2 separate regions of the Homo sapiens genome follow, and region 2 is linked to region 1. Evidence: fine-mapped expression QTL. Tissue or cell type: pancreas. Region 1 holds a variant in brackets; the other region holds the start of a gene. All regions are shown on one strand. Distances are between the middles of the regions.

Evidence for each region. PIP is the estimated chance that this variant, and not a neighbour inherited with it, causes the effect.
Region 2: it holds the start of SHISAL2B, and the variant in region 1 is fine-mapped to the expression of SHISAL2B in pancreas (GTEx, PIP 0.95).

The regions. Positions count from the first base shown.
Region 1 is chr5:64,643,271-64,646,032 of GRCh38, reverse strand. No RefSeq gene overlaps it. Among named protein-coding and RNA genes, the nearest start is that of SHISAL2B, 46 kb to the left of the region's middle. The variant C/T (reference allele first, on the strand shown) is at 1,598.
Region 2 is chr5:64,688,920-64,691,681 of GRCh38, reverse strand. It overlaps SHISAL2B (shisa like 2B), which reads right to left and starts at 1,179. Exons shown (of 3, transcript NM_001164442.2): 1 at 868-1,179. The coding sequence starts at 1,058. RefSeq lists enhancers at 708-1,208, 2,466-2,760, 2,267-2,762 and a silencer at 2,466-2,760.

The DNA of each region.
Region 1 (2,762 bases):
TGGAGGAATAACTATCTGAGCTGATCCTTTCATATTCAACTATAGGTGTGCTCTGTGAGGAGTCCTCTCCATTTCATCATGTTTACCTTTGAGCACCTGGCACTGGAGTTGTCTTAGGGAGGAAAATGTTTTTGTTTAGGGAAATACCTTGCTGAGTTGCTTGAGAGTTGAAAGAGAGACCCTAAGGCCATGTGCTTAAAGAGGATGATGAAACAAAAGATGGATATACTGATCTGCATAATAATAAACAAAGATTTTATACTGGGGTTAATCAGGAAGATTAGAGGGTTTGGGGAGGAGAAGGAGAGGGAAGTCTGGCAATAAGATAGAGGGACAAGAATTTCCAGTGGTGTGATGTCCAGAAGACACTTAAGACCAAAGACATCTAATACTCATTTTGAGTTGTGTTGTTACGAAGAAAACTCCCTCTGACTCTAGATGGTTCAGTATAAACTTAATTTGGCAGAACATCCTAGTGGGGTGGGAATGGGGGAAATTAAGAGTCAGGGTAGTAAAAACACCAGTCCCATACTCACTCCTTTGCTGACACCCACAGGGGTTAGCAACATCCCTTCAAGGGAGCAGCAGGCCTTGTGTCCTGGTAGCAGCTAGCAGTAAAGTGAATGATGGCCCACGGGGTTGCTAACAGAGGCAGAGAGAAGCAGCTGTGGTGTGAAACTAACTCAGGACAGGCAAGAGCCAAACCCTCCTTTCCCCCAAATAAACTAGAAGAATACCACTTAGAAGCAGGGAGAGAAGGGCTGACATGTGTATTCCACAAACACACACACACACACACACACACTCAAGTTGGTACTAACTATTGTGACCTTACAGTCTTTAATAAAATTCTGGCAAAATGGCACACAAAGCATTAAAATTTGTAACATGGTTATATAACCTTTATTTGGCTTTCTTTCTTTCTTTTTTTTTTTTTTTTTTTCCAGAATAGACAACATTAGAGCCTATTAGTGTTGGCCTTGGGAAGATTAAGTGCTTTTGGAAAGTGTACCCTGTTATAAACAAAAGACAAGCACAATCTGGTAACTAAAAATGTTTTCCTAAGAGGACAGAGATGTACTTTTTCTTCCTCCCTCAGTCCTATTGATTTTTAAATGTCTGATCTCAAATATTCACCTTCATGAAGCATCTACTAACCTTTTCCAAATCAGCACAATCTCTTCCTTCTTTGAGCTCTGTATAAGTTATTATTTAAAGAGCTTATAAGTTAATATTAAATTTTGCTATGTTTCATAGTGTTATATCCAATCAGGACTCATCTCGGGAAATATAAATTAAGACAGAGACATTTGGCAGAATTTCAAGAGACTGGCCACATGGAATTCTTTTTGTTTTTTTGAGACGGAGTCTCGCTCTGTCACCCAGGCTGGAGTGCAGTGGCGCGATCTCGGCTCACAGCAAGCTCCGCCTCCTGGGTTCACACCATTCTCCTGCCTCAGCCTCACGAGTAGCTGGGACTACAGGCGCCCGCCACTACGCCTGGCTAATTTTTTGTATTTTTAGTAGAGACGAGGTTTCACCATGTTAGCCAGGATGGTCTCGATTTCCTGACTTCGCGATCCGCCCGCCTCGGCCT[C/T]CCAAAGTGCTGAGATTACAGGTGTGAGCCACTGCGCCCGGCCGGAATTCTTTATCCTAAGGAAGTCAACCCACATGCCAGGCCAAATGTAATTCAGAGAAAGGTTTTCATAATGATTTTATAAGTGCCAAAAATACAATAGCTAATACTAAAATAGCATGTACTATATGCAAGTTCTCTGTTCACCTTAATTCATCTAATTTTCTTTGTGATCCTATGAAATAAGGACTGCTATTATCCTCATTGTACAGATGGCATAGCTGAGGCAGAGAGATGCTAAACAGCTTGCTTAAAGAAGTAGCAGAGTCAAGATTTGAACCCAAGCAGTTGGCCTGGCTCCAAAATCCATGCTCTTAACTGGTAAGTCTTCACTGCCTACCATATAATTTTAAAAAATCTTGGTTTACAAATTCCACTCTTCTCCTGCCAAAATACCATAACCTCTCACATGACAAAGCTAACGAGGGTAGACAAAAAAAGAATAGAGTCAGGAAAGTTTTTTCCTTTCCCTCTATCCTGGGATGTCTCTAAGTCTGTAAATTCTTGAATGTCTGGTATTTCCTGCTTTTTAAGATAACATTTAGGCATTCATTAATACTAAAGGATCTAGGACTCTGCTATACATCTTATTGGCACATATCAACTATCAAACATCTTGAAATACATATATTTCAAGATATAGCTGTGGAATGAGTCCCAGGTCCAGAACTATGTTTATTAAGGTAATTATTCTAACCCAATTATGACAGAGGGTAAGGCAGATATATTCTCATTCACTTTCCTTTGAAAACTTCCTTTAGTAAAAAAATGGGGAAAAAAGCTAATTTAAAGACTGTCTGCCCTTCGTGAGTTTACCAGTCATCCTATTTTAATATTTTTCATTTCTCTTTGATGAGTATAAGTATGATGAATATATAATTATTTGTATTTCTTCCCGTTTTCCTTACTGGACTGAACAACTAAAGGGCAAGAGTGTATCATATCATAATTCCACATTACTTTGCACAATGCCGTGTCCCTTAAAGATGTATTGAATTTGGTTGATTAAAGACATTAGGTAGATGTTGCATCTGTCAAGGTTTGAGCAGAAAGTAGAACAAAAATTAATAATAAGAATCAAAAGGAAATAGAAAAAATGTAAAGAAAGGACTGTGTACAGAGATGT
Region 2 (2,762 bases), 46 kb before region 1:
TCTACATCAATACTAGTTGGAATAAGTAAAATAAAATTGCCACTATGGGAAAAAGAAACAAGAAAGACCTCACCTTAGAAAGTCTCTTCACATTCCAGCAATAGCCACATGGCTCGGGTTTCAAGAAAGGGGGTGTCCTGTTCTACAGAGTGTGTGTATAATCATAGCAACCAAAAGCTGTACCTTTCTTGGTGTCGCTTCAATTCTCTCCAGGGTAGGGGTCAGATCCTCCAAAAAGTGCAAGTCGTAAAGCCCAGTTGCTTGCACAGGCCCTCAGGAACACACACACACACACACACACACACACTTTTAAAAATATACATGTATTTTAAAGAACACAGCCAATTCCTTCACACCCCTCAAAGAGTCTTAAAATACTCTGGTCCTTGTTAATGCAGTAAGAAGAGCCCCATAGGAGCCTCCTTTCTCTTCAAATACACCAGATAAACCAAAAAGAGGATTTTAAACCTTCCCCTTGGGTTATCTTCCTGTCCTCGCGCTCCACCAGTAGGGCTATCAGCCTGGGACTGGTCCCGGCGAGGGGAGAGCAGTCGGCTCCCGGGAGGCGGGCGGGGAACTCAGCGGGGCCAGCCAGGCGGGCCCCAAGTGCGCCCTGGGCGCAAAGCCCGCGCTCCTCCAGCGTGCGCCTCGCCTCCTGTCCTGGCTCCCGGGGGAGCTCCGAGCCGGGGCGAGATTTCTCTCCCTGCCCTCACCCGCCCTCAGAGGCTCCGCGTCCTTCCGTAGGGACCTAACCTAGGGCGGATAGCGGGGACGCGGGGGAACCTCCCTGGCCCTGGCGTGGCTCCGCTTGTCGCCTCCCTAGCCCCGGGCTCGGCCAGCCGCCGCACGCGCGGGCTCTCAGCCCACCTGAGGCTCCACATGTAGCTGTGCTTGTAGGGGAAGTAGCTGCCCGGCTCGCTGCAGCAGTACTTGAGGTCGGCGAAGCCGCAGCAATACTGGAGCGCTGCCCCCTCGCCGCGCCGGGGGCACTGGAAGGGCTCCACGAAGCTCTGGTTGAGGCTGTAGTAGCCGGAGCACAGTCGGCTGGCCTCGCTCATCGCGGGCAGGGGCCGGGAGAGGCTCGCGAGGGCCCCGGTCTGCTCTCGGATCGCACCCGTCCAGCACCTCCAGAGCCCGCGGACCCCTCTGCCCGGACTCGGCTCTTCCGATCTGGGCTCTGGCTGCCTGGGCGCTCAGCCTTCGCGCGCCACCTCTGATTTCTCTCCTCCCCTTGTCCACATGGTGTCTGGGCGCCTTACTCTCGCCTCTCCCTCTCGCTGCTGAGCGGTCGCTCCTTTTATCCGCCCATCTCGGCGCCGACTCTCCTCCACTTTCCCTCACTTCATCAGCAGCCTGGAGACCTTAGCTGTCCCCACTCGATGCCAGAAAGAGCTTTCTCCAGAGGGAAAAAAGAAGAGGTGGGACATGTTTTCAGTGCAGGCAGATGCTGCCTAAGTTGCAGTTTTCCTGTCTAGGGACAGGGCAGGTGGATTCTGGGCAAACAGACTGGGTCTGGTGGAGACTTAACTGCCCGGCCATTGACTCAAGGAGTGGAGGAGAGGACCAGATAAAAGGCAGCTGAACACCAGAGAGGCGGAGTTGGTGTTCTCTTTCTTTGAGAAGTAAATGTGAAACATTAAGATCTGCCCATTTAAAAATAAAAAACAAGAAACAAAGTCTCCTGTAACAACTGGCCATGGTGCAGTTGCATTCGGTGTTCAGCTGAAAAATCCAGAAAGTTTAAGAAACGCAAGACATGAAGGTAAAGAAAGTGAGAACTTTCTAGAGAGGGAGGCAGCCAGAGGAAAAAAAAAAGGCAAAGGAAATAGGGAGAAAGAGACCTTCAGTCAGTTTTGATGTGCTGTAGGAACTTCTTTTGTCTCCTTTTTGTTTGATATTCCCATTTTCTTGATTGGTTTGTTCACAAAGCCTTTTTAAAATAACGATGATAATGCATGCTTATTGTGATAAGCCAAACAATGCTTGGGTGTATAAACAAAAAGGTAATAATAGTCTTACGATGGGAGAGGAGGCGATTATAACATTCATAAAATGTACAAGATAGAGCATTGTTTCTCCCTCTTCATTTCTGCTTCCTTCCCTTGGCCAGGGGCTTGATTGGATCCCAGACGTCGAATTTTACCTTGTTGGGTACTGGATGTTTTTGCATTCCTATAAATACTCTTGAGCTTTGTACTGGGATGCAGGAAACAGTTTGAGTCTTTCGGGTTTGTTTTTAATATTTGTTAGGCTGGACTAGATTAGCCTTTAGGACTGAATTTTTCCCCACTACTGAGGCAATACCCTTCGAATTATTCTACCCAAAACTTGTGAATTATAGGGCTTACCATTGTGACTGGTGGGAACACATAAAACACAGAAAAATCCAGAGACAGGCATGACCACAGAGGCCAAATTTCACCAAGCTTGGAGTATCTTGAGGCCTCTGAAGTTCAAACCAACAAAGGAGCCTTTTACCATATGAAGCTTAAGGGCAGTGTTAAGACTGCGGCTTTAACCAGTTAGGAAATTGCTTGACCTTGCCTGCTGTGTAGTCCCCTGTGACTTAGTCCCCAGTTATCTTCCTCCAGGCAGGAGGAGTTCTGATAGGGAGTAGGGTGGGGCTGATCCCGCACCAAAAGATAGCCATCGATTACATCTTTTATTTTCTCTTCTTCTTGTGTCACAAAGGTGATACTCCCCTTTAGAGAATATTCTGGAAATAAGGAGACATTTTTGGTTGTCATGATGACACTGTCCTG